2 linked regions of the Homo sapiens genome follow. The protein of the gene in region 1 interacts with the protein of each later gene in a biochemical or structural test. Each region holds a gene or a part of one and is shown in the gene's direction. Other genes may lie near its edges.

Region 1 (16,353 bases):
ACTGCAGACCAGTCTTAGCACCCAGTTCTGCTTGAATGAATTCATTCAGAAAACGTTGACAAACACCTGTGTCAGGGCCTCTGCTGTTGGGTCTGGGGCCACAGGGTTGGGTAAGAGCCAATATATGAGCTCAGATCATAGCTCTATTGAGCTGGTTGTTACAGGAGGTGGTCAAGACTTTGCTTGGGATCTGCCCAGCCCACCTTTCTGGCTTTGTCTCCTGCTCCTGCCCCTCTGGACTGCTGGCCTGTCCCCAAGTGAACACACTTGCTCTTTCACACACAGACCCATGGAGACCACTCCCTATCATACTCACTGGCACTTCTACCCAGAATTCACCTGAGCCACCCTCTTTCCTTTGGGCTTTCAAGGCCCAGCTAAAGTATTAGCTCCTCTGTGAAGGCTGCCCTCTCGGAGTTTGTTGCTGCCTCCTTGTCCAAAAGGACCTAAGATAATAGGTTTTAATAATGTGTACAGTTATTTATTTCCATCTCTAAGATCCCATTAGACCAGGGGCCCTCGGAGTCAGTGAGCTTGTCTTTGTGTTTTTGCTGGGACCTAATACACAATGGGTCACTCAGGAATTGCAATTAAAATGGGTCCAGAGAAATGTGACCTGCAAGAATAAAGGGATAGGGCAACCCACTCTGGTCCCCTTCCACGCTGTGGAAGCTTTGTTCTTTCGCTCTTCACAATAAATCTTGCTGCTGCTCACTCTTAAAAAAAAAAAAAAAAGAATAAAGGGATAGAATGCAGAAGGAAGATGAAGATGTAAGGACAACTTAACTTAGAGCAGTGGTTCTGAACCCAGGCCTCCAGGAAGGCAGAACGGCAAAGGGGCAGAGGATGTGAGCTGTGTAGTTGAGGTAGTTGGGTTTGAATCCTGGCTCTGGCATCTATTAACTCCATAAACTGGGACATGTAGTTGTATTTCTTGGGGTTTCAAGAGGGGCCAGGAATACCTTGGAACACTATAGAGAATTTCATATAAATAGGTATAAGTTTTTCTGGAAAGAGAGTCCATTGCTTTTTAACAGGCTTCACAAAAGGTAAGCACCACTCAGAAGGGGAGACACTGTCTTTATTAGTTGTCAATTGCTGTGAAACGAATTACCTCAAAATCTAGTGACTTAAAACAATCAACATTTCGGCTGGGCACGGTGGCCCTCACCTGTAATCCCAGCATTTTGGGAGGCTGAAGTTAGGTGGATCATGAGGTCAGGAGTTCAAGACCAGCCTGGCCAACATGGTGAAACCCCACCTTTACTAAAAATACAAAAATTAGCTGGGCCCGATGGCAGGCACCTGTAATCCCAGCTACTTGGGAGGCTGAGGCAGGAGAATTGCCTGAACCCGGGTGGCAGAGGTTGCAGTGAGCTGAGATCACACCACTGCACTCCAGGCTGGGCGACAGAGTGAGAATCCATCTCAAAAAAATAAAAAACCAAAAACCAAAAACCAAAAAAAAAAAAAAAAACCACCACCACCACAACAACAAAAAATCAACATATCATGTCTCGCTGTTTCTGTGGGTCTGGAATCCAGCTTATGTGGATGATTCTGGCTTGGGGTCTTTCGTGAGGTTGTAGGCAAGATGTTGGCCAAGGCTGAAGTCATGTGAAAGTTTGTCTGGGGCTACTGTCGTATAGACCTCTCCAGAAAGCTGCTTGAGTGTCCTTATGACATGGTGGCTAGTTTCCCCCAGAGCATGTGACCTGGAACAAGGCAGAGCTGCAATGTTTTCTCTGACCTAGCCCCAGAAGCCACTTATGCTCATTTCCACAGTTACAGAGTTCAGCCCTAATCAAAGTGGGAGGGGACTAAAAAAGGATATGAATGTGAGGAGGTGGCCATTTCTAAGGCTACCACAGTGCCTTAGAAAGAACTTGGAATGAGGAGCTTGGGGTTTAAATGTTGACTCCAGCAACAACCAATTGTGCAATCTTGGGAAAGTGTCTTTTCTTTACTGGCCCACTTTTCTCATTCACCTCGTATGATGGTTTTGGAATTCAAGAGTTAAGTCCTGTGAAAAGCCATTTATATAAGCCCCCAACTTCACATTTAGTTATTAGAGGAAGAAAAGTCATTTAGGGTAGGGTGTAAGTTGATGTTTTTATTATAAATCATGGGAAACAAAGAAATAACCCATTCACCGCTCTCATCACTTGGGCACACCACCCGCTCAGCATTTTGATGTTAAAATACATTTTAAAGGTTCTTTTCCTTCTTTCACAGAGGAAATAATAGAGGAAATGGCTTAAACTGAGGCCAGAAGCATTATGGTGGATGTGAGTAAATCTCTGCATTATTAAGAGAGATTAAAAATTGGGATGGGTACCTTATTGAGGTCCTGAAATCTATACTTGAAAACCTTAAAGCATCAGAGAGCTGCCATTTTCCGTGATTTCGGTAAAAAGCAGCTCAGGTTATCCTTCCTTTGAGGCCATTCTAGGGGGTCCCACAAATCTTTTTAAGCAAAATAAAAATATTAATAATTATTAAAGTTGTTTTCACATTGTTGAGGTATATTGCATTAAGAATGGAATTTGTTTTTCCATCATAAAAGTAGCACATACTAATTCTAGGTTTTGAAAATACAAATATAAAAAAGAAAAAATATTACCCATAGCTACTACCTTAATCTAAATGTTCTATGTTTTGCGGTTGAAATGAAAAAGAATTTTTTTCAATTAAAAAGTGTAATATGGGCCGGGCGTGGTGGCTCATGCCTATAATCCCAGCACTTTGGGAGGCTGAGGCAGGCAGATCACTTGAAGTCTGGAGTTTGAGACCAGCCTGGCCAAACATGGAGAAACCCTGTCTCTACTAAAAATACAGAAATTAACCTGGTGTTGTGGCACATGCCTGTTATCCCACCAACTGAGGTAGGAAGATTGCTTGAACCTGGGAGGCAGAGGTTGCTATAAGCCAAGATCATGCCACTGCACTCCACCCTGGATGACAGAGCAAGACTTTATCTCAAAAACAAAAGGTAATATGTCCATGGCTCACAACTGTAATGCCAGCACTTTGGGAGGCCGAGGCAGGAGGATCACTTGAGGTTAGGAGTTCGAGACTATCCTGGGCAACATAGCGAGACCCTGTCTCTACAAAAAATTTAAAAAAAAAATTAGCTCGGGGTGGTGGGATGTGTCTGTGGCCCTACCTACTCCTAGCTACTCAGGAGTCTGAGGTGGGAGGATGGCTTAAGCCCAGGAGGTCAAGACTGCGGTGAGCCATGATCATGCTACTGCACTCCAGCCTGGGTGACAGAGTGAGACCTTGTCTCAAAAAAAAAAGACAATCAAAAGTTGCCATAGTCTGATGGTTACCCAGAGGTAACCATTATTGACATTTTGTTGCCAGGCACAGTGGCTCATGCCTGCAATCCCAGCACTTTGGGAGGCTGAGGTGGGAGAATTACTTGAGCCCAGGAGGTCAAGGCTACAATAAGCTGAGATTGCACCATTGCACTCCAGTGTAGGCAACAGAGAGACCCTGTCTCAAACAAACGAAAAAGACATTTTGGTAATTTAAACACGTTTTCCTCCCTACTGGGAGACTGAACAGCAGGATTTAAACGATGGTGAATGGAAGGTGAGCTATGAGTTAGGGCTGCCCATCACATGGGCAGATTCTGTGACTTAATGACAATAATAAGGTCATGAAGTCTCCTATACAGGGTCTTGCTCTGTCACCCAAGCTGGAGTGCAATGGCGCAACCATGGCTCACTGCAGCCTCAAACTCTTGGGCTCAAATGATCCTCCTGCCTCAGCCTCCTGAGTAGCTGGGACTATAGGCACATGCTGCCACGCCCAGCTGAAGTCATGCTCTCTATCCATGAGCATCTTTATAACTTGCATAGATATATTTGGGTGAAATCCTGTCTTGGTCTTTCCCGATTCTCCCTGAGCAGGTTCCAAACATTGTTTAGGGCTCAAAGGGAAATTAGTCTTCAGAGTTTCTCCAGTAAAGTAATTACGGAGATCGGGTCATTTATTCAACAGATTGGGTGCCTACCATGTGCCAAGACTGTGCCAGGCACTGGGGATATGATGATGAAACCAAAGATGCTAGCATGAACACAATCACTAAACCAAAGTCACACAAATAAATTAAATGTGGGAGGGACAAGGAGAGCTATACATGTACTGATCATCTGCTATGCTGGAAGTTTATTTAGCAAATGTAATCTTATTTAATCATCTGGACCCAAGGGAGGTAATCTGACCTCTCTGAATCTCAGCTTCATGTGAAAACGGGGATAATATTATTGAGAGAGAACATTTGTTACAGGGGCAAACCCTGTTCCAAGGTTTCTTTCACTCAAAGTATAAACAATGAGGCACTTTTTACACTTTAGACACTAAAACTTTTTGGAGGCAAAGAGGGCTGGTATTTAGTGAGTATCTGCTATGTGCTAGGCACTTTACAGAGATCTCATTTAATCTCAGTTCCATTCTTTGAATTTGCTATGTACCCTGCTGTCCAAATGACGGCACTGAGTCAGTGAGAGGTTTCATAACTTGCCCAAGGCCACAGAACTGGATGGAGAAAGACTGCAGAGATTCAAACCCAGGCCTGCTGACATGCAGAGCCAATGAGAATATATTATCTTGCAGTGCAGTTTATGGGATATATGTGTCCCTTTGGGAATTCCTGGGTGTCTGCTGGTGGCCTGTTAACTTGGTTCTTGAATATGCACTTTGCTTATAACTGTGCAGTTTGAAAAGTGACTCATCCCCAAACTAGGCAGGGTTGAGTGTCTGTCCTGTTTATCTTCCACATGCCACCTGCACTAACTTCTGAAGATAATCTATAATAAAAGCACTGTGATTAAAAAACAGAAAAACACACACCAAAAATGTATAGGTTTGTCTGTTGGTGCTTCTGACAAGAAAATAAACTCATGAATCTCATTAACTTTAAAAAAATCACATCTACTTAAGGTTTAATGACTAAAGCCAACTTTCTAACATATCTGTACCGTTCTCTGAACATACTGTTTTCACACTTAACTACGATGTTGTCACTTGTTTCTGTCTGATTCTGCAAGGGCAGAGACCTTGAAATATTCAAATCTGGATTCCCCCATGGTTTGACCCAGCTGAAGTCAGGCAGTGTTCGCTGAAAGAAATAAAGGTGTTTCCATAATGCCTGTATTAGCTTTCTTTTGGGGCTGTAAGAAGTTACCACAGATTTAGTGTCATAAAACAATATTCATTTCTGTTTCACGCTTCTTGTGGGCCCGACGTCTGGATTCCATGGCTCAGCTGATTCTCTGCTTCCAGTCTCACGAGGCTGAAATCAAGGTGTCTATATTCCTTTCTAGAGAGTTGGGGAGGGGGTATAATCTGTTCCCAAGTTCATTCAGCTTGTCAGAATTCAGCTCTGTGAGGTTGTAGGACTGAAGTCCCCATTTCCTTGCTGGCTCTTGGCAGGACTTCCTCTGAGCTTTTGGAGGCTGCCTGGATTCCCTGGCTTGTGGCCACTTTCAAAGCCAGTAACAGTGGGTTGAATTCCTCTCATACTTTGAATTTAATTCCTCTGCCTCATCTCTCCAAAACATCTCTTTTGCCTCCCTTTTGTGCTTTTAAGGGTTCATGTGATTACACTGGGCTCACCCATATAATACGGAATCATCTAATTTTAAGGGCTTTATTTCCATTGGCAAAATATCTTTTGCCAAAGAATGCTGGCTGGTAATCCCAGCACTTTGGGAGGCCGAGATGGGTGGATCACCTGAGGTCAGGAGTTCAAGACCAGCCTGGCCAACATGGAGAAACCCAGTCACTACTAAAGATACAAAAATTAGCTGGGCATGGTAGCGCATGCCTGTAATCTCAGCTACTTGGGAGGCTGAGGCAGGAGGATCGCATGAACCCAGGAGGCGGAGGTTGCAGTTAGCCAAGATCACGCCACTGCACTCCAGCCTGGGTAACACAGCGAGACTCTGTCTCAAAAAATAAATAAATAAATAAATAAAAAAGCAACATATTCACAGGTTCCAGGGACTAGGACTTGGACAGTTTTGGGCAAGCGGGGAAGACATTATTCTGTCTACCACAGTACCTGTATTAAACATGTAAATTTCAGTTATTCCCTGTAGGTCAGAGGGCAGTAAAGCTACTTCAGAAGACATCGGAAAGAAGCCAAATGACTTGCCAAAGAGTACTGTATCAGCCGTAGATTGAAAAAAAAGAAGTTAAAAATCCTTTGTAAAAAATCAAGGCAAACAGTTTTTTGAGGGACAGTAGTTCCTCCTTTCTCTCAGGGTAAAGCTAGAGAGATTTTTAAGAGGTGTCTTATTCTAACTTGCAGTCTTTTCCCTTTGTAGGATTTTGCTTACCGGACTCACAAGTTTTCTGTGACCAGTATTAGAAGCAGAAAACACTGAACCCCTTGGCGTTAGAGTTTGGGCTACACCATAATGGTCTCCTATCAATACTGGCTCTCGCTACGTGTTAACATTAGGGAGTGGAGAGTGTGTTTCCTCACCCAGGGAAACCGTTTAAATGTGGCCACTGATCCTGCCTTCATAGTTTTTAAGAGCTGGCATCAATCCAACTCCGGACGGACTCTAGAAATGTTTCTGGACAACGACTGAACCTATAGTTACAGAAAACCTATGTGCTGGGCGCTCTGAATTTCATTTCAGGTTCTAAAACTAAGGCTCAGAGAGGCTAAGTATATTGCCTATTGTTTCTCAGCTGGTAATAACAGCTACCATTTATTAAACATTTGCTCTATGCCAGGCGCCATATCATACGGACCTGATAATGTCAAGATCTCCCTTCACATCCTCTTCCAATCTGTCAAGAATTGTATGTTAATTTTAATTCCAATAATGCCATGAAATACAAGACAAATGCAGATCAGAAAACTGAGGCTCAGAGAGGTTGAGTGGACAGCCAGGGAGTGACTCAGCCAAGATTCCAGTCTAGGTCCGCTGGACTCCAGGGCCTGAATTCTCTCCAGGGTACTGCCTCTAAAAACGCCCTCAGGTGCATTCTGGTCAGTATGGCCCCAGAGTCCAAGTTCTTTACACGACCCGTCAACATATCACCAAGTTCCTAAGAACGCTCTAGGCTGCTGGTGCAGGCTCTGCAAATACACAGCGGCCTGAAAGCACAGGAAGAAATGAAGAACCGTCTAAGTCCATCAGCCGTGGAATAACCGTTTTACTGGTATGAGGGTCTTTTTGTCTCATTATTATGTGGCAGTGAGTCATTTAGAGGTGACCAAAAGGGAAAGTCCTGCCTCTCGTCCCCTACGAGAAGTGTAGGTAAGAACCGTTTAGGCGAGGAGAAGCACGAAGTGGGAACTGCGAGTCGAGCTCCCCATCCTCACTCCCCACCCGCACCCGCCAGGAGGTCCTGAAGCAAAAAGCACCGAAGGGGTTAAGGGTGGCCGGGGGAGCCCAGCCACCGCCCCTTCCCAGCATCGCCTCCCAGAATCCCGCAGGCCCCCAGCCAGTTCTCGCACCTCGCGAGACTCCACCCAGCCCCTTCCCCGAACAGCGACCCGTCCCCGTTCCTAGCTGAGGTCGGTGCTAGGCGGAGGACGCGAGAGGGAGAGCGGAAGGGGGCCGCCGGGCACGCCGGGAAGTGTGGTCCACGCGCTTCACGCGGCCATATTCTTCCGGAGCGGGGGAGGCCAGAGAGGCCGTTGGGACTACGACTCCCAGGCGCCCTTTCGGTTTGTTTTTGTTCAAAAAAAAAAAACCCCACACTCCCCCTCCTCACTCTTCACACACACTCACACACACCCACGGCAGACACGCACGCACCCGGGCGCCGAAGGGAAAGCCGCGTCTCGCCCTCCCGCCCCGCCGTCGGTCCTGTCTCAGTCCCTCAGCAGAGCGGGAAAGCGGAGGCCGGAGCCGTGACCTCTGACCCCGTGGTTATGCGGAGCCGCCGCATTCCTTAGCGATCGCGGGGCAGCCGCCGCTGCCGCCGTGGGCGACTGACGCAGCGCGGGCGCGTGGAGCCGCCGCCGCCCCTCCCCCACCGCCGCTCTCGCGCCAGCCGGTCCCCGCGTGCCCGCCCCTTCTCCCCGGCCGCACCCGAGACCTCGCGCGCCGCCGCTGCCACGCGCCCCCCCCACCGCCGCCGCCGCCCCAGCCCCGCGCCACCGCCCCAGCCCGCCCAGCCCGGAGGTCCCGCGTGGAGCTGCCGCCGCCGCCGGGGAGAAGGATGAAGGACAAACAGAAGAAGAAGAAGGAGCGCACGTGGGCCGAGGCCGCGCGCCTGGTGAGGCGGACAGCCGAGGGGGGCTCCGTGGGGCCCGGGGTGGGGGGGGCTCGCCGCGCACCCCCCCACTGGGGGGGGAGGGGCAAGGCCCTGCCCACCGCGGGAGGGGGCGGGGCCATCTTCCTTTAAGAACGGGACAGCCCCGCAAGGCGAGGGGTGGGGAGCGCTCCGCCGGGATGGGATGTGGCGCCTTTTTCCGCTCGCCCTCGCGCCCCCCCCGCCCCGCGCAGCTAAATTCCGGCGGAGGGGCGAGCTGGCAGGCCGGCTCCTCCCACTCTGGGCAGCGGGGTCCCGCGTCCCCTCCCCCACTATTTGGCAGCGTCTGGGGGTCTGGGGCAGCTTCGTTCATTCACCCGGGGGAGTTGGGTTTCCGGGAAGGGTCGGAAGCTCCTCCCTCGCTTCCTGGTGGGTAATGGGGTGGTGCCTTTGACTCCGGGGGTGGAAAAGCGACCCCACATTCAAGGACGCCAATGGCATGTTGAGCTTTCCCAATCTAAACCAGGTGCGTGGAGGGAAGCAAGTGCTTACTCCCAGCTTGAACCCTGAGCAGCGGTTCTCTAACTTTAGTGTCCTGTGGGCGACACCTGGGAGGCGGTTAGGAACGCTACTCCTAGGGCCCTTCGTAAGACCTGCTGAGCCTCAGGGTCTGGGATAGAGCCTGGGAATCTGCGCTTTCACCAGCTTCCCAGGTGATTCAAACGCAGTGGCTCACGGACCCCACTTTGAGAAACGCAGACTGGGCTGTTTGCCTTCAGAAGCTGGACTGGAAATTGGTATTTTGAGGAGAACTGAATCCACTTTGCAAAGAATGTATGTTGGACAAAGACAAAGTATCTCTGTTGGGAGACGTTGTTCACTGAGGATTTAGCAAGGGAGAGCGTAACTTGAGTGTTTGAAGCCGTCTCGTTCAACCGATGGGGGTTGTGAATTTTGTGTTCAGAGCGTCAGAGGACTTGCAGGTGAAATAGCTTCCTTTTGGATTACTCCCACAAAGCTCAGACACTTTGAGACATATTCGGGTAATTATCTGCTGATACCAGTAGTAACAGGTTATACTAAGATGTCAGTTCCTAAGATCTGTCACACAGCGAGGTTGTGGTGCGGATAGCATAAGTGTCTCTTGACACTGTAGTTTATATGTAATGGTTGTAATTCAGTTTTAATGATGAGTGAAGCTCAGACTTAATTTTCTCTCTTATTTTGAAGTGAGTTTTCTGCTTCAAAGGTGTTGTGCAAAAAAAAAAAAAATAGACTGTATTGGGGGGGTTGACACAAACCTGAAGTACACCTTTTTCTTTCTCGAAGTCTGTAAAAGTTACAGATTTATAAAAACTGAAGGAATTTGGGCTACAGAATTTTCATTGGTGCTTGCTATCCTCTTCCCTAGTCATTTGTTGCCCAGGGAACAAAAATAGCAATTGTTTGTATGCTGAAGTTTTGTGCTTCAGTTTATTTTGGCCTGGCATGTGAAGTTTGAAGATTTTGAGGTTCCGAAATATTTTTTTTCTGATTGAGTCAAAATTGGAAGCTTGGGCTAGTTTTCAGGATCTTGTAGAAATTTCAGGATTTCTCTAACGGTTCTGCACCTGGAAACAAATATAGGCCTGATGGGGAGTGGGAGAGAGCTCTCGTTCTCCTCCTCGACAATGAGTTTTGTGTGTTCATTGACATTCTCCTTGGCGTTCCTGTTATGCGGGTGTTTATGACCCTGGGCACCCAAGGAAATTTGCTTGCCAGAGTTTTACTTGTTAGAGGTAGGTGAAAGTACTTTTAAGTCTTGTGTTATTTATGTCTTGACAGAATTATGAAATCTGTTTGTCTCAAAGTTCTGTTGGCTCTTACTAGTTGACTTTAGGAATTTGGGGTCCACTGTTAAGTCTCTTTAGATTCTCGAATTTACCGTGGTCTGAACTTCAACATCGAGGTTGCTATTTCTGTTTTATCATTGACTCAACTTCAAGCCAGGTTATCAGGGTAAGTTATTCCTCTTTTTCTTCTAAGGCTCTTCATTAAAAATAGTAATATGAATAGGAATTACTTTGTTTGTTTGTTTTTCGTTTGTTTGCCACCACACCCGGCTAATTTTTTATTTTTAGTAAAGATGGGGTTTTTCCATGCTGGTCAGGCTGGTCTCGAACTCGTGACCTTAGGTTATCCGCCCACCTTGGCCTCCCAAAGTGCTGGGATTACAGGCGTGAGCCACCGCGCCCAGCCTATGAGTAGGAATTACTTTGTGGTGCTGTTATACATGTGAAAAAGGATTTGCGAGACTTTGGGAGTCTGAGGTGGAATAATCACTTGAGGCTAGGAATTCGAGATGAGCCTGGGCAACATAGACCCGGTCTCTACAACAACAGCAACAAAATGAGCTGGGCATGGTGGTACACACCTGTGGTCCTAGCTACTCAGGAGGCTGAGGATAGCTTAGGCCGAGGAGTTGGAGGCTGCAGTGCCCAATGATTGATTGTACCACTGCACTCCAGCCTGGGTGATAGAGGGAGACCCTGACTCTAAAAAAATAATGAGGCTGGGCGCTGTGGCTCACGCCTGTAATCCCAGCACTTTGGGACGCCGAGGTGGGTGGATCACAGGGTCAGGAGTTCTAGACCAGCTTGGCCAACAAGGTAAAACCCAGTCTCTACTAAAAATACAAAAATTAGCCGGGTGTGGTGGTGCACGCCTGTAATCCCAGCTACTGAGGGGGCTGAGACAGGAGAATCACTTGAACTTGGGAGGTGGAGGTTGCAGAGAGCCAAGGCCATGCCACTGTCCAGCCTGGGTGACAGAGCAAGACTCGTCTCAAAAAAAAAAAAAAAAGAAAAAAAGAAAAAGGACTTGTTGAGAATGTGATATGCAATTTGAGTATCTTGTGTGTGTTTTTTGTTTTAGAATTTTCCATTTCTTTGAATGGGACTGGATGGTAGGTGAGGGGGAACTTTTTAAGAGTCCCAGGCCGGGCACGGTGGCTCACGCCTGTAATCCCAGCTCTTTGGGAGGCCGAGGCAGACGGATCACCTGAGGCCAGAAGTTCGAGACCAGCCTGGCCAACATGGTGAAACCCCGTCTCTACTAAAAATACAAAAATTAGCCAGGCATGGTGATGGTGCATGCCTGTAACCTCAGCTACTCGGGAGGCTGAGGCAGGAGAATCACTTGAACTCGGGAGGTGGAGGTTGCAGTGAACCCAGATCACACCACTGCACTCCAGCGGCGACAGTGAGACTCTGTCTCAAAAACAAAACAAAAGAAAAAACCAGTCCTCTTAATGTTTAAAAAAAGTTGCTGTAACACTGTACTGGAGAATTTGTGAGAGCGTACACTGGACTGAGAGAAACTTGACTAGGAGGGAACGTAGGACAGTTGATTAGAACACCTGAACACTTCTCTTTGGGCAGGTGAATTTGGAGTGCTTGCAATGGCAATTGTATGCACTTCCATGGGAACGCTTTCAGATTGCTCCTGACCCCACTCAGATTGGTGACTAGAGTGTTACTGGGAATCCTTTTAAAAATTGTTTTTGTAGGCTGTGCGCGGTGGCTCACGCCTGTAATCCCAGCACTTTGGGAGGCCGAGGCGGGCGGATCACGAGGTCAGGAGATCGAGACCATCCTGGCTAACACGGTGAAACCCCATCTCTACTAAAAATACAAAAAATTAGCCAGGCGTGGTGGCGAGTGCCTGTAGTCCCAGCTACTCGGGAGGCTGAGGCCGGAGAATGGCGTGAACGCGGGAGGCGGAGCTTGCAGTGAGCCGAGATCGAGCTACTGCACTCCATCCAGCCTGGGCGACAGAGCAAGACTCTGTCTCAAAAACAAACAAACAAAACAACAACAACAAAAAAACCTTTCGTAGAGGAAAGAAGATTCTTAAGAATTTCAGTATAGTGTACCCCAGGAGATTGATTTTTGCAGATGTTAATTATGCTGTTGAAAAATAGTCTTTCTTTCACACATTTTGTAGTATTGTCTTTTCTAGGTGTAAGAAGTAGACCTTATGTGGTTGAGTGGATATAAATCCTCCAACTTGTTATAAACAGTTTGTTTGGGAGAAATAGCCAAGGGGATTTCCCTTTAAATCGAGGACGCTAAATGGATTCTCCCTGGCTTCGAGAAACTCTTTGTTGTATGCTTTATCTTTTACTTTGATTCATGACTGACCAGTTCTTACATCAAACATTTTTTTCCCCTTTGAAGTAAGAGAAGAGATACTTAAAAAAAAAAATGTAGTCTAGAAAGAGACTAGGAATAGAACACTGCTGACTTGTTCTTATACCAAGAGCTGGAGGCATAAACAGTTTTAATAAAAAAGAATACTTTGTATCTTTTGATGTAACTTCCCTTTAGAGATTCTGTTTCCCCTGTCTTAAATTCTCAGGCTATTTCTGATTGCTGTTTAAATAATTGGTAGTTACTATTTGAGTCATGCTTCTTAAAAAAAAAAGATATAAAAATTCGCCAGCTCAGCTTTCATTTAATTAGTATCAAAGAAATGTTATCTGTGGCAGTGAACATTAGTAGCTTGTTCCAGGGTTTATTGTAGGTTTGTTCAAGTCAGTACTGCCCATCTTGGCACTTAGGTTCTTGGAATACAGAGGTGGATAAGGTTTGCCCCTCAGGGCTTATGGTCTTCTGGGGATGAAGAAGGTCCAGACGCAGGAACAGAATTTTACTACAGTCATGATACGTGTTATCATAGTTGTATAAATCATAAACAGATATCCCAGTTGCTGCCTCTTGTCTAGTCATAGTTTCTCCTTTCACTCTCAACTGTCCTGGTTTGGAAGATAATTGTATGTGTTATGAAACAATGGGAACATTGAAAAGAGACATTTACCTCTGCCTGGCAGAGATCAGGGAAGGCTTCCTGGAGGAAGGTGCTTTCTGAGCTGAATCTTGAAGGGTAACTAGGAGTTAGGCCAATCACAGAGGGCATAAGCAGGAGCTGGTGACAACACATAGCAGGAGAGAAAGAGTCAGAGTGGGTGAGAGGGAGTGTGTGTATTTGCAACGTGTGGGAATTAGGTATATCTACAAATTATTGGAACATAAAGTTTGTAGAGTGTCACTGTGGATGGGTAGAGAGGCAGAGACCAGATTGTGAGGGTTCCATATGCCAGGCCAGTGAGCACCTACTCTGTGCCAGACATTGTAGGCATTACTTACATTGTCTCTAATCTGTCCAACAACTCGAGAGGAAGACATCAGTATCCTTCAAAAGAGAACCTAGGTTCAGGTTGGGTTGTAATTGCCCCAGTTTAGAATGTAAAAATTTGAATCTAACTCTAGATCCTGTTCTTTACCGGTGGGCCAGTGGACTTTGGAAGCTTCAGCTTTTGCAGTATGTGATTAAGGAGCTGTTGAAGGATTTTATTTGCTTTCTATTATTATTATTACTATTTTTTGAGACAGGGTCTCACTCTGTCACCCTGGCTGAAGTGCAGTGGTGCCATCACAGCTCACTGCAGCTTCCACTTCCTGGGCTCAGATGATTCTCCCACCTCAGCCTCCTGTGTAGCTGGGATTACGGGCATGAGCCACCATGCCCATCTAGTTTTTTGTATTTTTTTGTAGAGACAGGGTTTCACCATGTCGCCCAGGCTGGTTTTGAACTCCTAGGCTCAAGCAATCTGCCCACCTTGGCCTCCCAAAGTGCTGGGATTACAGGTGTGACCCACTTTACCCAGCCATATATATTTTTTAAATTCTTTAAAGAGATGAGGTTTCACTGTGTTACCCAGGCTGGAGTGCAGTGGCTATACACAGGCACGATCATAGTGCACTAGAGCCTGGAGCTCCTGAGCGCAGCAAGTGACCCTCCTGCCTCAGTCTCAGCTGAGACTATAGGTGTGCACCACCGTGCCTGGCCTGTTGAAGGATTTTAGAGCTGAAAGTGATGAGGGCAGGTTTGCTTTGCTGGGTTGACCTCAGTCTATAACATGTAAGTTCTACCAGAGCAGGGATTTGGTCTTGTTTACTGTGAATCCCTAGAATTGTGTCTGGCACAAGGTACGTGTTCCATGTGTTTGTTGAATGAAGGATGACAACAGAGTCAGAATGGATTTGAGGAAAGCAGGACTGGATGGAGGGATAAATATTAAGAGGCTGTTGTGTTGGGTCAGGTAAGAGACTGGTTTTGGGACTTGGCGGACAGATGAGCGAGAAAGATGACACCTGCGTTTCTGAATTAGGTGATTATACAGGCTGTCAATCAAGGTAGGGAATACAGGAAGAAGAGTGGGTCTGGAGAAGAGGTGAATTAGAGTTGCCAATTAGATGAATTAAGAGTAGAGCTGAATTAGAGTAGATAATGAAGGGGTATAGTCAGTACACAACTGAATATTTGAATCTGAAATTTGGGGGAGAAGTCAGAGCTAGAGGTAGAGATTAGGTAGTTATCAGAATTTAGGTAGTAGCTGAAACTGAGATGATAATGTTACCCATGGAGAATGGAAAATCTGAAAAGAGAAGCAAAGAATAGGACCATGGGAAATAGGGGTTTTATTTTAGTACCTTCTCCAAACCTTGACTTTGGTGCTGAGGTCTTATGTTCTTCCATAGAGAGTACCTTCCGCAGCAGACCTATCAGACGAGATCGGGCACATTCAGGGTGGTATGGCTGTAGACAGCAGCATCGTATCAGACTTCTTTATGTTTTGCTTGTGACAGCAGTACTTGGCTATGGCAGTTAAATGGACTGTAAGATGTTAGCTTGATTTGGAGTACCCTGAGTAGCTGCACAGGTAGACAAAGTACAAAGATATTGACAGCTTTTTTCTTCCTTTAGAAGAATAACATATCTAAAACAACTCTTAAAGCAAGAGAGCTGCAGTTGCACACTAAGAAAATACTGCAATACTGCCATGACTTGGTTATAGGTGATGCTAACATAAATGGGATATTCTGTTTCTCATTGCACCAGTCATGCAGAATCATAGCATCATGTGCCAGATGGCAGAACGTACTGTGGCAGTTAACACCACAAATTAACAACACAGTGGCAGAAAGCACCGTTTAAAAATATGGGTACTTGGCCAGGCGTGGTGGCTCACTTCTATAATCCCAGCACTTTAGGAGGCTGAGGCGGGCAGATCACCTGAGGTCAGGAGTTCGAGACTAGCTCTAGTCTCTACTAAAATACAAAAATTAGTGTGTGTGTGTATATATATATACTAATCAAACTTCCTTGGGAAAGAAAATGTGAATGCATTTCTGTGTCATACATTTCTTGTGCAGCACTATATATTCTGTGGTTTAGCAGTATTAACAGCATCAAGCTGAACAGTAACCAGTGTTGCTAAGGTCTCGCATACTATACCATGTATGCTGAGAAGATATGCATCCTTAGAATTGAGAATTAGAACATTTCAGTTAATTGCAGTAACTTTTCAGTAACTAGATATATGTGTAATTTGATTTCTGAAGTAATTTTAACTGTGGAAAAACTAAGTTGTCACCAGCGGTACCTCATAGCATAACTTTAGCCCATGATATATGGATGGATGGATATAAATGGAAATTGCACACTGAAATTAGGACGTTTATATTTCTTCAGGTATTAGAAAACTACTCGGATGCTCCAATGACACCAAAACAGATTCTGCAGGTCATAGAGGCAGAAGGACTAAAGGAAATGAGGTTTGTATTGTTCTTGTTGCTTAACATGAGGGTTTCATAGGATATGTGTCTTTCTGTAGTTGTAGTGATATGAGTAAGTACACCTGTGTATGTATTTGTGCTTCTGTGTCTGGTAGTGAGATGGAACTATCCATTTCCCAAATTGTGTGTCGTCTCAGTGGAGGGTGGCAGTGGGTGAACATCCATTTGTTTTCATTTAGAGGTGCAGTGGCTTTCCCCATCTCCTTGTTCTTCCTTAAATCTTGGCATAGAGCTTGTTTTTTGTGTAAGGAGTCAGGGCACATTTTCTCTTGTGCTGTTTTGGAAGTTTCAGACCTGATAGCCTCTATTGTGCCTAACGCTACCCTTTTCTCTATGCCGTATCACTGAAGTTCTTTCTTTTAGAATAAAAGAACAGTGGTCTCATCAACATAAAAAACCACTGACTTTTTTCCCCTTACTAATTGCAGTCATATATGATGTGAAT
Region 2 (15,805 bases), on another chromosome or scaffold:
GGGAACAGTGCCATAATTTCTGTGTGTTGTAACAGATGTGGGTGGGATCTTTGAGTGGTAGGAATGACCAATTGTTTTCTTTCTTGCCTCAAATGCTGAATAGAGGGAACCATGTATTCAAATATCCTGTAGCATAAAAGGCATTTGGGCACGTGTTACTGTTGCATAAAAACACTCTTTACACAGACTGTATTACACAGATTATTGCTGTGTAACAAACTACCCCCAAGCTCAGTGGCTTAAAACTATAAGCTTTTGTTACTGTTCACAGCACCATGGATCAGTCGGGTTGTACTTCTGGGTTCACTGGGCTCTCTACTGGGTAGGCAACTCTGCTGATCTTACCTGTGCTCTTTCCGAGGTTCAAGCTGGCTCCAGATTGATCTAGTGTGGTCTTGGCTGGAACAACTGGGCTGTCCTCTTTATGGTCTCTTGGGACTTCTGCTTCTCTTTTCCTAAGCTGAGAAAAACTTCATTTCTATTTTACATAACATTTTAAGAGGAAATGTATGATGAAAATGTCAAGCAGAACTTCAGTTCATTTGCTAAAAATGTATTGGCTTTTAAAAGACAGTAGAAATGAAAGATCCGGCCATTATATTTTATCATGATAGAGACTGTTATTTAATATTTGAAAGCCCATAACTTGTTATAAAGAATATACATGACACAGAGCAAGATACAAGCTTATCTGGAACAGTCTGTTGCTGGGAAATTTCTTTTTTGCCCTCCTGCCCTTCATCAGATTCTGTTTTTGAAAGGCAGTCTATGCCTATTCCATGAAAGAAATATAAAGGAGTGTGCTTGTATCCCTGCTCAACTTTTTTACCCTGCTCAACTTTTTTACCCTAGATATATGGGACCCCTATTTGAAGACTATTGATTCCTGAACCTTAGACTGTCAGCCTTTTTTCAAAAAAGTTAAAAGACCCACTCACAGTGTTTCAGATACACGAGGGCAGCTTGGGCTTCAGCAGAAGTGAACTTGAGTTTGGCACAGCGAAGAATTTCCTGCCTATGAAAATTGATTATGGAAGAGATACTAAGCCTTTTTTTTTTTTCTAGATCAGAGGTTTTTTAAAAACAAGGTGAATTGATCATACAGTAAGTGTGTGAGTTTATTCCTGGTTAAAAAGCAGAGGGCCAGCCACAGTGTCTTTAATTTCCTTTTTTTAACATTCAGTTTTATGCCATAAATAAAAGGCTTCATCTCAGCTCTTATTCATATTGGGTAGCTCTGTCACAAACACGAAGCCACAGACACGTGTGCCTCTTTGGACAGGATTTAGGCAAAGTAATCATTGAGAATAGCCCATTGCTGCCAGAGGAAATGTACAAAGAAGCACCGCCGGGTATGAAGGAAAGCATCTCAGGGGTTCATGTCATCCCTCAACTACTCACTGTTGAGTTCCTACTTTTATACATTAAGCCAGAACATTTTCTTTTTTCTCATTTCTGGAATTGAACTTAGGATATTTCTTATAGCTCATATGTCCAAAGAAAAGGATTTTTCATCTAAAACTAAATCTCTTGCCTTGCAAGGACGCGCACCACACCGTGCTTGTCTGAAAATGAATGCGACCACAGTAGGGCTGCCCTTACCAGCCCAGACAGAGGAGGGAAAAAGTATTTGAAAGACTGTCCACACAAGAAGAGGTAAAATCTGCATATCAAAAAGTAACCAGTGAGGGAAATATGATTAAATTTGTTTTGAAAGTTTCATTAGCATAACATACCACTTTAACCACAAAGAAGTATTTGACGTCTGTATATTCTGATATTTCAGAGATTTTCTATAACTTCTTTGAATAATTTTAAGAAGCTGAGCTAAGCTGGAAGATCATATTAAACTCTCAGAATGCTGTGTCCAGACTAATTTCCCCCAAGACTTCAATATTCTGTAAAAATTCTAAGCATGCTCCTTGCTCAATTGCTGGCACAATGGACACCAGGTCATCTCTTAGACTTCGAGGTTGTAGGGGCCTCCTGTCACCTTTTGAAGTACTTGCACATATGCTACATGTTGCAGACTCAGAGCAGTCCTCTTAGGATTCCATTTTGACCTCCATTTTACAAACCCTGAAATCAAAGTCCCTGGAAATGGAATAACTTGATTCATTCAACACATACTCTTCGGCACCCTACCCTCAGCCTGGTCCAAAAGGCACATGTCTCATGAGTGGCAAGAAAACTTAGCTGCAGCCTCATTCACTGACCTTTTTTCTCTGTATATTTGTTCCAATTTCAACTGGAATTCACATGGCAGGCACTTTATTAGGAAAAAGACACAGTCCCCACCTTCAGGCAGATTCTGATGTAGAAGAAATGTTTACTCACCCCAACTCTCCCCAGTTTACAGTGGGACGTGCTATGTTAAATGCTTGAATTAAATCCTTAGGTTGTGGGAAAAGTAAGTCTCTAACAATTAGTAATAGATCCACCTGCCTTCAGATCCATGGTAGCTCGTTTACATGATGAGATTAGAAAATGATTTTTTAACTAAAATTAAAGCATGTTTTAATGTTTTTCTTTTAAATATATCAGTGTGTTAGTTACAGGTCATCCCCAACTCATGACAACCCCATAGTTCTAATCACCAACTGTAACTCATTATTCTTGCAGTTAGCAAGGAGCTGAAGAGTCAAGATGAACAAATTCCAGACTTTAATTTTCAAGCAAGAATAAATAGACCATCATGCTTCCTTTGCTAAGCTGAATATAGAGAACTTTATGGACAAAAATACCATCAATTGTATTTTCCTTTTTTTTTTTTTTTTTGATGTGAAAGGATTTTTAGTGAAGCATTGTTTTCATCTCTTCCTGAATCCAAGTGAATCTACATCTTTTGCATGTTTCCTGCATTAAATTTTTATTGTGTGCCTGAAAATCAATATTCCAGATACATGCACAAGTGCACACATTAAAATGAACATGACTTCATTTATTTCCATGATTAGACATTCAAATAAAAGTGCTTGGGTGTCTGTTTTCATATTCATAGGTCGAGATCCGTACATCAGAGGTATTTGTATAAGTGACACTTTTATTACATTCATTTCATTTGCAATATGATAGTGGATCATAAATATGTTACTTTTATGCCACCAAATCTGATTTGTAGCACTTAGCCCCTCACAAGGAGAATACTTGATATTTTATGGAGCACCTTTCATCCAAGAAGCGCTTTGCAAACATCAGGCCGGGTTCTATCAGGTGTATAAATCACATCTGTGACCCCCTGAATGCCCCACCTGCTTCATCAACCTTCTGGCTACTACTGTAGGGGTGGAGAGCAGTTAGTGATTCCCCCGCAGACCCCAACATGATAGTGAGACCTTTAAGTTCTGGAAGAAAGAGGCTCAGGTGAACTCTGTATTGCCACATATAGGCCCTGACAGTGGACAGAACACCACATTTAGTTATATGTCTACCTTATCATTTGCAAAACAGTTTTGAGGCCCCCATCTGTGGGTCGGATCTTGTATTAAGCCCTGGGGACATAGAGACAAGTAACATGTGGCCCTTGCCTTTCAGATATTCACAGACTTGGAGGGGAGGGCTTTGATGCAGGCTTGACAGTGTTTGCTCCTCTCTTTGCCTCTCCATTCCCTCCCAGAGGTGCACCGTACCTGAAAGCAGCTTGTCAAACTCCCAGGTCTGGCATAGGTATATGAGTGCATATACCAGTCAGTCGCAATCAGAGTGAAAGAAGAGGTCCACCATCAAACATCCCAGGCAGCCTTGGAGCTGAGCATCAGATGCACACCCCACGCTCCCAGAGAAGAGAGTCATCTCCCCACCCACCATCCCATAGCATCCCTCAATTTACCCTCCCAATTCCCCAGCGTTAGCTTCCTAATCTAGGACCAGTAGGATCCCCCTGCCACACCCAGTAATACACAGGCACAGCTCCCTGTAGCATCCTTCATTGTACTCACTACGCTGTGGACTGTGTGTACATGGGGTAGACTCAGACGCAGCGGAGCACAGTGGGTTTCCTAAGTTCTGATCCTGACTGTATCACTCACAGGATGCATGGCCTCAGGCAGGGTACTCACCTTCCTGTGCCTCCACTTTCTCATCTGCAAAATGGGTATAATAGTGATATCTACTCTATTAGGTTGTTGTAAGGATTGAATGGCCTACCATGAATAGAAGGCTTTATGATAGTTGTAATGAACACTTTCAGTATTGTGGTAAATAATACTCTCGTATATTAATTGCAGTACATGTAATAATAGTGATGCCAATATTCTATTATTATTATTATTACTGTCACTGTTTTATTGTATGATGAATGTCTGTCTGCTACCATAAGTTTTTGCTCCATGGTAGCAACAACCATCCTGTTTTGCGATGGCACATAGTAGATACTCAATAAATATTCATTGAATGAATGAATGAACAAAACAATGAAGGAACAAATGAATCCACCCACTCATTTGGTGCCACTGCGATGGCTTCTCCAAGCACCATTTTTCATATCAGTCTCCTCTGCCACTGACAGCCACAGGCCCCACAGTAATCCCCACAAGTCCTTGGTGTTTAGGTCATCCATTTCCCCCACGGAAGGGCCTTACATTCTTCCTGCATAACTAACCCACATAGGCCTTTACAGTAGTCTACCTCCTTCCCACCAAGCCCACCATCTGTGTGTCTCCATGCAGGTGCTACTGCCATCTCGGGGGAGGCTCTGAAAGGAGCTGTCTCCTCTGGAGTTGACCCCAGGTGGTAAGTGGTGGAGCTAGCACTAGTTCCAGATCTCCTGACTTCCCCTGCAGTACTTGTATCGCCCTTGCCTCCCACTGCTGGCCTCCAGGGGAACGAGTCCCTGCACTGCCCCAGGAGCCACTGACCACGAGGCCTCAAAGGGACCAATAGTCCCAAGAACTTGGACAAAGCTACCATCCCTAGGCCCCCGTGGCTTCTTGTGCACTGTGTCACCTCCATGATTCTGGTGGTTCTTGGCAGCCCTTCTCAAACACTGCGTCTGCGTTCTTCTAGAGTTTAAAACCATTGAGGGAAGCAGCTGCTGAAGCCACGTGTTTAGAAAATTTGTCCGTCAACTTATGAAGCTGTATGTAATTGGGGCATCATCACCAGAGGGGTTGTCCCTGCATTTTGTGGGTGTGGAAGAATTTGTGATAATCCCAGGAGTCCTTTATTCACATAGACAGTGGTGGTGGGACTTCACGTAGGGGACAAAAGGAGTGTGGAAAGTAGCCTGAGGTTACACACTGCTCCCCTTCGAGTGAGCTGCAAAGGCTGCTCCAAATTGGGCCCAAAGCACAGAAAATGGTGCTCTGGCTTCACAGTTGTGATTTTGCAAACGGCGTGTGTGATCACTGCACAACCCAACAGAGATGCCCAACTTGGTGCCCAGCTGCAGCTCACCCAGGGCCCCTTCCCACAGGACCTCACCCCTCCCTTTCTTGCTTGGTTCAGTTACTTCATGGTGACAGCTCACAGTGTCTCCTCTCTCCTGGTAACCCTCTAGAGCTGGGTTTGCTCGTCTGAGTTTTCCAGGCCCCTGGTGGTGGATGGGGACAGTGAAGCAGAATGCTTAGGAGCAGACACAGGTCCTGCAGACTTCCCTGTGGATGGGATTATGGGGACTCCTTCTGTGGGTTGTTAGTTTGTTTTGTGGTTTCTCTTTCTGCACATTGGGTTGACTATTTTCAAACATGGTATTGTTGGGCCTCAAGTTCCTTGAGTGTAGAAATGGGGTCATAAGGCCCACCTCACCTGGCTTACTGTGGGGATTTCGCGAGCTAGGATTCTTCACCTGCTGATGCCCAGTGGCCCTTGCCACACAATCACTAAAGGGTAGTGAGGCTGCTGCTGTGTTTTAATGTAGCTGTAGGTGTCATCTCAGCTTCAGAATCGACTCAAACAGTTCCTGGTATTTAGCGATGTGTCACCTCCCACAGGGCTCTGGGTTTTTTGTTGGTGTTGTTTTGTGATATAATTCACGTAGCATAACATTCATCATTTTAAACTGTACCATTCAGCGGTGCGTAGTGGATCCACTAAGTTGTGCAGCCTTCACCAGTAAGTCCAGAACATTTTCATCTCCTAAAAAACAAAACCCTGAACCCGTTAGCACTCCCGATCCTCCCTCCCCACCAACTTGCCCCCGTACCTGACAGCCACGAGTCTACTTTTTGTCTTTGGATTGGCCTGTTCTGGACATCCATATAATTTAGAATCACACAATGTGTGGCCTTTTGCGACTGGCTTCTTTAAGGCGTATGTGTGAAAGCTTCATCTGTGTTGTAGTATGCATCCATAATTCATTCCTTTCTATGACAAATAATATTCCACCATAAGGACGTCCTAGATTCCACTTCCCCGTCATCGGGTGATGAACATTTGGGTTCTTTCCACTTTTCAACTGCCGTGAGTCACACTGTCATGAACATTCATGGACAAGTTTTGCATAGACACATATTTTCAGTTCTCTTGGGTGTACACCTAGGAGAGGAATTGCTGCGTCACATGGTACCTCTGCGTATAACTTTGAGAAAAACTGCCGAGTACTCTTCCTCGGGGCTCTGTTTCAGAAGGACCCTCCCTGCTTAGATTTGACTTTTTCACTAGCTAAGGAAGGCCATTGGCAGAGGCCGAGGAAAAGAGGGGGGTCTGATCACCTGAGATCCTGCGCACTCACACACAAGCCTTCAGGCATTCCCTCCCCTCAGCAGCCCAGACTCCATCCTCACGGAGAGCCACCATGCCGCCTCTGCCACCCTGCATGACCCCTTTCCCCCTCATTGTGTCTCCTTTGCCCGCCGGCTTCTTTGCATTCTCTCTGCTTTGAACCATGATACCCACTCTCACCCAGCGTCCTGCGCCGGCTGGGAGGGATCGGGTCACAGAGGTCTCGAGGGGCCAGTCTGCACTGGGAAAGAATACAGCTGAGGCTGCACTTCCCACTCATTTCACCAGTGATCTAGAAATTTTCTGAGCCAATGAGCAGTGTCATTTCAGAGTCCTGGGGGAAGGAAACTGTCTAGAAGGGTGTTCTCTTCAGACCTGTTGGTTTCCTTAGGAATAAGTAAGTGAGTCCAAGTGAGGAAGGAACTTCTCAACCACGTGAACTTGAGCATATTTCTTAGCTTCTCCAAGACTCAGTTTCTTCATCTGTAAAATGGGTTTAAACTTGCCTACCTGATAAAAGGATCAAGTGAGATACCGTGATACCATGTTCAAGGGACTCAAAAAAATGTTCCTGGTCTCCCCAGCTGCCCTCCCTCCTGGTTAGGTAGGAGTGGCTCGTACAGACACTGACTTTGTAGTAGGACTCACCTCCCTTTTTTCCTTTCTTCCCCCTTCTCACCCCTTGCTCTTTCCTTTCACCACTTCCTCTCTCCTCCTGCTATTGTCTTACTCTGCCCTCAGCTCCTACCCCAAATATGGGTATTCTCATGGTGTGGACCCAGGGAACTGCCAGTTCTCAAATCACCCGTGTGCTCTTAGGGAGGCAACTCAGGCCAGATCCTCTTAGGGCAGATCAGATTATGCCCTGGGTCATTTTGCAGTGCAGATTCCCAGGTCACAGTGGTGGCATGCACAGCCAGGCAGCATCCAGCCTGGCACCCGCTGGGCCCCAGAGAACATGGACTCCCTGGAGGGGGTGGCATGGTCTGTTTCGCCTGTCTGCCTCCCTGGGTTTCAGTTTCTTTCCTCGCGAGATCCTAGCCAGGGGCTAGAGCTTTGAGTTACACTCGGATTTGAAGTCATCCCAGAGGTCTGTGCTGCAGGAGGAAGCACGGGCTTCCATAGCACTGTGTCCTGGGCCCTGACTTTGTGCCTGGCACCGTGCTTGGCTCGGAGCATGCAGAGGGAAAGGACACACACCTGCTGTGGGTCCAGTGTTCCAGACACAACGTGGAGTCAAGTGGCTACCAGCGAATAAGGGAATGAATGGTTTTCCAGGCTGAAGATTTCATACTGTATCAATTATTATTTTTAAGTAATTTTATATTCCAAAACAGATAATATGGTTCATACAGAAAGTTTAGAAAGCAGAAAAACACGAAGGGACAAAAACCATCATCCTTATCTCCTCTCAGATGAGTTTCTTCAAAAGTGCCTGTCACTTAATTCAGAAAACTAAAAAGCAAAGACACCAAAATGTGTAGCTAGGAAATACTAATTATGAAGTAACGGGGCTTTGTTCAGAGACCTGACCCTTCCCTTACAATGTCACTCAGGGCATCCCATTTGAGGGTAAAGCTCTTGGAAAAATCCTTCTCTCTTCAAGAGATCCAGTCCACAGAAAAAGTTCTCTCACAACAAGCCAAGACTCTGAGCCTCCTGGGTGAGCCCAAGCTCTCCAAACAACTGACGGGCACATGCATATACAGAAAGACAAACCTAGCTCTCTGCCGGGGTCCCGCGGCTGCCAAATCCCTTTTCCAGGGAGGTGTGTTATTACCACCTCTTCCCACTGTTTCTGTCCCAAATATCAAATGAGCTTAAGGCAGCCTTGGGAGGTGGAACCTCCCAGCTCAGGAGCACAGGCCCAGCCTTCAGCGACCCCTGATGTGCCTTCTCTCTCGTTTCCAGCTGTCAGGAATGACAGGAACAAGAAAAAGAAGGAGACTTCGAAGCAAGAATGCACAGAGAGCTATGAAATGACAGCTGAGTTGGACGATCTCACAGAGAAGATCCGAAAAGCTCACCAGGAAACTTTCCCTTCACTCTGCCAGCTGGGTAAATACACCACGGTAAGAGATACTCCTGCCCCAGGCTGCTGGGAGTGTGGAAACCTTGTACGTGCATGTGTGCAGACACACACACACACACACACACACACACACACACACACACTTTGCACTGGGCCTGGCAGGGGCTTGCATGCTAGCCAGCTGGGGCTATGTAGTAGCCACTTCTTTCTGTGAGGTAGCCTTTGGGCGTGGGCAATCAGTGAGTAGGCTGAGTGCCGCCTCACTGCAGTCATGCACACATGCATTCACTCTAGATGCATTAACTGAGTATTTGCTATACGACAGGCTGTGTTCTAAGCCCTGGCAACATGAACTATTCAGTGCTGCTCTCAGAGACTTTGATCTGGTGAAGGAAACAAGTAAAGCCAGTGAAGCGTTACATGGGTCATGACGGACCTCTGTACGGAGGGACCCAGGGGGACGGGGCCTGATCTTTTAAAAACCCCAATCCATCTGTGAAATCCAACCAAGATAAAGAGGCCATCCCCTGGGCCAAGGTTTGCCTTCTGTGAGAGGACATGTACAAAACCCCCAAGCCAGGGCCTAGAAAAGTTTGGGGTAGGCATGCCCCATGCCCAGTTGAGTGAATGTTCCCCCTCTGCTTCCCAGCGTTCCACTAGGAATGGCCTTTCACTGAGATTGGAAATAAAGAGAGGCAGGAAAAAGAGAAGTGAGATAAAAAGGTAGGAGGTGTATGTTGGCTGGTCTAGGTTGTGCCAGTGGAGGGGTCATGAGGTGCTTTAATTTTTCCAAGTGGTTTTTGCATGTATTATGTTCACTGATGTATATTTCTAACTTGTGGCATGTAATAGACACTCAGTAGATATTTGATGAATTAATACAACTAGAATGTTGTTCTGGCCTCTTTAAAAAGCTTAGGTTGCTCACCTACAATGCTATGGTAAACATACTTTAAAAACAAAATCCAAATATTGTAGCACTTGCTGGCTTGGTGAATGGTGTTCTAGAAAAATGATAGCATGGGAGGTCCTGAAGATCAAAAGACAAAATAGTGATACCAGAAAGAAAAAAAAAAAACAGTGAGCGGCGGGGCTTTGGAGCAGTTCTTGGTGAGCATGGGGTGTAGTGCGCTAGGATGTTGGTGGTATCTGTAACACAATAATGGTGACCAGGAGCAGGCCCAGAGGGGCGCCCATGGAATCTGGGGCCAGCACAAACCTAGGTGGCTTCTCAGATGAAAATGAGACTACACAGTTGGGTGGCACCAGCTTCTGAAGGGCTGGCACCCACCTTAAACAGACAAGTCTCCTGGCTGAGCTCAGAGACTTTGGCTCACCTGGAAGCAGAGGTAGAACCTTGAGCAGTACTTTTCAAAACTCAGCGTGCATCTGAAGCACCTGGTGAACTCGTTACAGTGCAGGTTCTGGTGCAGCAGGCATGGCCTAGGGGCATTTCTAACAAGCTGCCAGGCTGCTTATGCTGCTGGTCTGCAGACCAGACTCTGAAGAGCAAATGAGCCGGGCTTTGAGAAGCAACACCCAGGGTGGCACTCTGGGGTCCACCTCGCCCATTGGTGTCAGCCAGGAGAAACACTGGCATGTCTGCCAGGCCGAGGGAGAGTCTCGGCTTAACCTCAACCAGTCTTCACTGAGTTTGGGGAACACTGTCCCATCCCAGAGCAGGGACACAGGCCAGGACAAGACTGGACACTGTAAGGGAGCTTTCATTTTCACCTGGGAGAGAAAGTGGAATGTGACCCCATGTATCCAGAACAGAGGCCTGGAACCACACGAATGTACTTCAAGTCCTACTCAGCCACCATCAGCCCCATGACGGTGAACAAATTACCTAACGTCTCTCAGCCTCAGTTTTCCCATCTCTAAATGGGAATAATGTGAAATAGTTGGGAGGATGAAATGAGACAATTTATGAAAAGCTGCTGTGATGGAACCCAAAAATATCTACCCAGCAGTGGAGTGGCAGAAACATCATCCAGACACGTACCTTCTACTGGATACTAACTGACCCTCCAGAGACCTGGCCCCCATGCTGGGTGCATCTGACAATACAGAAAAGTAACATGATGAATAACCAATACCTGAAAGTATGCCATTTATTTCTTTTAGAAATACTTACTAATTGCCAACCATTCAGTGGCATTTCAGGCCCTGTATTGAGCTGTGTATCAAGGTGAGGGCGTCTTGACCTAAGAAATGAGGGAACTCAGGCTGGCACAGTGGGAAGGGGCGAAAAGAGAAGATGAGAGAAAACAGGTGCTGTGCAATGGTGGACTGTGTTGAGTTGAGAGCAAGTGGGAAGTGAGAATGGGAAAAGCCTGGCGGAGTCTTGAGTGCCACTTGAGGAGTCTGTAAATAATGAACAGTAATTGATGGTTGTGGTCAAAAATCTTTATTATTATCATTGTAATCATTATTACATCTCATATTTATTGAGCATTTACTATGTACTAGGGACCATGCTAAGTACTATAAGTATACTAATTCTTTTATTCCTTATGAGGACTCTGTGATTTGGGTTTCGTTGCCCTCATATTACAGATGCAAAAGCCAGGTACAGAAAGGCTCGATAACTTTCCCCTTGTCTCTTAGTCAACAAGTGGTCAGAGGTGAGACTTGAACCTAAACAGTCTGACTCCAGGGCAGCTCTTTTAACCAGTATACTATACACAGAATCCCTTGAGAGGGTTGCCAAAAAGGGAGAATGGAAGCTGGGGCCATTGGCGGCATCTAGCTAGGAGGAGAGAGCTGTGACCCAGGAATAAATCAATCTTGTAGCTCCAAGAAAGTCAGAGGAAAAGAGATGAGAGTGGGGAGGTCTTCCTGAAAGAGGAGACTTTTGATCCAGGTCATGAGGTGAGCGACTTTATATGGCAATACCTAGGGCCAGTAACTGCTACATCAGGGTCCCCCTCCGCCTCCTCCAGGTGGTATCTTAGCATAGCCAAGTCAATCCCCAGACCCTGACTCACCTAGTAATCAGGTGAAACAGCTCCCACTCTAACCTGGAGGAGGGCAGGACAAACACAACGTACAGCATTTGCCGCTCCTGGAACATGCGCCCTGGTGTGACCGGGATTCCTACAGGATGGCTCACATGTGAGGCATTGCCACTCCTGCGAGCGGTCCCTCACCACTGATGAGCAGAACGTGGAGAGATAAACCCCCCCAGCTTCCTTATTCGTTGGGCAGGATACTCTTAGGTATCCTCTAAACCACGTCCCAGAGTTTCCCAACTAGATCGAGCTCTGACTGCCCACAGTGATGATCTCCGCTGGCCGCCTTCCTTCCCTGCCCACTCTGTTCTTCCAGTGCTTCCTGGGATCTCCTCCCACATAAACTATCGTGCATTCCAATTCTAGTCTCAGCCTCGGCTTCTGGCCTAAGAGAGAGAGGCTTCCCTGCAGGCCTCCAGGGCCCTTTCCTATCCACCCCAATATGGGGGTGAGTCACCCCCAGTCCTCAACTGGGGCCCACCCTCCTAAACACATTGTGGAGACTTCTTGTACCTCCCAGTCAGGCAGAAAAACAGAAACACGATTTTATCTCTAGAGCGTGGCCCTTCACTACTGGGCATCCTTCCGGAGGCCTGCTGCCCACCGCGGGGTGGAGGGCGCTCTGAGCCAGTCTCGCAGCTGACCGTGCTCTTCATTTGTACTATCTCTCCCCAGATCTAGCTGTGTTTTTATTGTGAGCCACTTAAAATCCTTTCTGGAAGTCGGTGGTATAAATAAATAACAGCAGCCATAACACATTCTCTGCAAGCTCTTAGTTCGGAGTTGAGCATTTTTAAAAAGAGCTTTTTTTAGACAGGCAGTTGCTTCCACGGCAGGAAACTTCCTGTCATCTTCACCAGAGTGGCATCCCTGTCAGATGCCTTTGGAATTAGTGGGCAGAGAGGAATAAGAAAGGCAGCCAACTGCGCATCTACAGATCTTTGAAAGAGTAGTTCCTTTTTCTTCCCTAATTAGGGTGGATTTGGGACAAATGGTTGGGTCCCCGGAGACCGCAGGAATGGCTGGAAGAGGCAGAAACATATCCCCACCACCCCCACCTCAGGCCAGGGCAGGGCACTCACCCACAATCTTCAGAGCTAGTATCCCTGGGAAGGTTTCTACCCAATGACCCTCCGCCGCCATAAAAGGAGAGAGGGTGGATTCCCTGTGGAAAGGTGGAAAGCAGGAGAGAAGCTATTTATAGATGAGCTTTCCAAAATAGAATCAGGACTGAACCAGAGGTAACATCCTCGCTCTGAGGACGTGTTCTCCGCTTCCTTAGGGTGAACCCTAGTGAGTATCATTTGGGCTTTAGGGCCTCATAAATTCAAGCTCAACTCTTATCCCTGCTACTTAGGAGTCATGTGACTTTGGAAAGTTACATCATCATTTGCACCTCAGCTCCTTCATCTGTATAATGGGAGTTTTAAAAACATCCACCTCCTGCCTGGAGGGTTCCATGAGAAAAATATATGGAGCGCCTTGCACAGTTTCCGGCACAGAGGAGTCGTGCCGAATGTGCAGCTCTCCTCCTCTCCACCCCATCATAAATGTCTTGTCATTTTTTCGAGCCACATGCCCAGGTTCTGTAAACTAGCGTGGGTGTGACAGTGGGACAGATTTCCAGGTGGTGTAGCCCCCACCCCCAGCTCGTGCTGTCTGCTCCGGGCCGCCTCTGCTCCCGGCCTCCCACTGCTCTGCCGTGTGCGGGCCGCTCATCACCAGGTGGGGCCTGGCGGGAGGTAAGCTGTCCTCCGAGGGGCTTGTGAATATGAACTATGAAGATTTAAGAAGCCCTTAACCTGCTCAGAAAAATGACCACAAACAGAATTATTAACCACGAAAGACTTTCCAGGAGACATACCATAGAAAAGGAAGGCTGTTTTGAGCACTTGTCATGGGTGGACTCGGTGCGCTTTTTGGAAACTAACATTTGCCATCAACCAGAGGAGCAGAACCTGGAACTCGGGGAGCTCGGGCTGCCAGGAGAGATGCATCAGGAGGGATAGAAGGTCAGTGGGGGCCACGAAACCCGAGTTCCAGTCCCCACTGTCACCTCACAGCTGTCTGACTTTGAGCCAGTTGTTAACTTAGTGAGCCTCAGTTTCTTGCTAGTAAACACACCTGTGCTGCCAGTATCACCCAGCAGCGGTCCCCAACCTTCTTGGCACCAGGGACCAGTTTCATGGAAGAGAATTTTTCCATAGATGCTGGGCTTGGGGATAGTTTCAGGATGAAACTCATGAAGGACAACTTAGATCCCTCGCATGCGCACTTTGCAGTAGGGTTCATGTTCCTATGAGAATGTAATGCCGCCGCTGATCTGAAGGAGGTGGAGTTCTGGCGATAACGCTCGCTCCTGGCCACTCACCTCCTGCCGTGCGGCCCAGTTCCTAGCAGGACACCGACCAGTACCCATCCACGACCCAGGGCTTGGGGACCCCTGACCTAGACCATTCTTTCATGTTGCAACAAACAATGACTGCATACCTACTGTGTTAGTTTCCTAGGGCTGCTGGAACAAAATAATACAAACTGGGTGGCTTGAGACAACATTATTTGATCGCATTTCTGGAAGCTAGAAGTCCAAAATCAAGGTGTGTGCATGGCCACGCTGTCTCTGACAGCTCTGGGAGAGAGCCCTTTCTTGCCTCTTGTAGCTTCTGGCGTGGAAGGCAGTGCTTGTAGTTGCATGACACCAATCCTCCGTCTTCTCATGGTCATCTTCTCCCTGTGTTTCTTCACATCGTCTTCTCTCTATGCATGTCAACCTCTGTCCAGATTTCCACATTTTTTTTTATAAGGGCACCAAGTCATACTGGATTAGGGCCCACCCTAATTACCTCATTTTAACTTGATTACCCCTATAAAGACACTATTTTCAAATAGCGTCACATTCTGACATACTCGGGCTAGGATTTCAACACATCTTTTTGAGGAACACAGTTTAACCCGTAACAAACAGTAACACCTAGTGAGTGCAGAACTGGAGTGCATGGATGTTACCTTTCCATGCTTGCCGCTCTCTGCAAAGTCTAGCTGGAGATCAAATTTTGTCACAAGTGTTGTGAGTATTTAGAAACCTCTGGCAGCACACATAAGTCCTGATCTTTTGAAGAAAAATGTTCTGTAGGCACTGTGCTAAGTACCCACATTCTTCCTCAGTGATGGAATAAGGGAAAGACGTTCCCAGCAAAAGCAATAGCATGAACACGGCACAGGGTTTCACAGGGATGGGGCTGGGTGGGAGGGAGGCAGAGCTAAGTTTGAGGAGGTAGGTCAGGGCTAGCTTCCTAGGGGCTTTGGGTGCTGGGATAAGGTGTGTGAACATTAGCCCTAGGGAGCCAAGGGAAGTTTCTAGTCATGAGAAAAAGCAGTTCGAAGAAGGTGGTGCCTAGCTGCTGTGTCTGGCTGGAAGGCTTCGGCAGGGACACAGGGCAGGGCTTTTGATCTTTCTCAGATATGCCCTGCAGCTCCAGAAGGCATTCGTGGCCCCTTCCAGCAGCTGGGACCACTCCAGAATTCTAGCATTTCTTGGACATCCTCTAGGGCCTTGGACTATACCCACCACCCCACCCCTGCACTCGACCAAGGCCCCAGATCTCTGAACCCCAGGAGTGAAGGGGCTGCAGATGGATAGATGGTCCTTTCCAAGGTCATGTCCCAGCTCAGGAATCTTAGACGATGGTGGTCCAGGAGCACGCCTGAAACGTGACCTCCAGGGGAATCCTGCGGCATCACTCTTGCTTTTTAGCCAGGCTGCTAGGAAATACTCGAAAGATTCTAGAGACCCTCCCTACCTGCCCTCTCCCATTGCCCTTTGCTCGAAGCCCTCTCTAGCCACAGGCTGCACCATGCCTTTAAGATCACGCCCTCCTGTCTACCCAGAGCTACAGGGTGGCTGCCAAGCTGCCTTCTCCCCACCTGTTGGAGGCATCTGGTCCTAAGGAAAATGCTGCAGGCGTGTTGGGGGCCTTCTCCTCTCTTCTCTTCTGTTGGGGGCAGACGTTCCCGAAGCCATGCTCTCATAGTGCCTAGATAATGTGTGTATTGACCACAAAGAGATGTTGGCCGGCACATAACATTCTCTTCATAGCTG

What was found.
Region 2: the proteins of ASXL1 (region 1) and RARB form a complex in vitro, tested with the Homo sapiens proteins (one study listed by IntAct).

Annotation. Positions count from the first base shown.
Region 1 is NC_000020.11:32,350,580-32,366,932, forward strand, and holds the start of ASXL1 (polycomb group protein ASXL1), read left to right. Parts: upstream 1-7,751; 5' UTR 7,752-8,196; coding exon 8,197-8,253; intron 8,254-8,406; exon of another isoform or gene 8,407-8,434; coding exon of another isoform or gene 8,435-8,658; exon of another isoform or gene 8,659-8,728; coding exon of another isoform or gene 8,729-8,755; exon of another isoform or gene 8,756-9,272; intron 9,273-10,130; coding exon of another isoform or gene 10,131-10,227; intron 10,228-15,804; coding exon 15,805-15,887; intron 15,888-16,353.
Region 2 is NC_000003.12:25,561,187-25,576,991, forward strand, and holds part of RARB (retinoic acid receptor beta), read left to right. Parts: intron 1-8,571; coding exon 8,572-8,732; intron 8,733-15,805. UniProt on the Homo sapiens protein: Receptor for retinoic acid. Retinoic acid receptors bind as heterodimers to their target response elements in response to their ligands, all-trans or 9-cis retinoic acid, and regulate gene expression in various biological processes.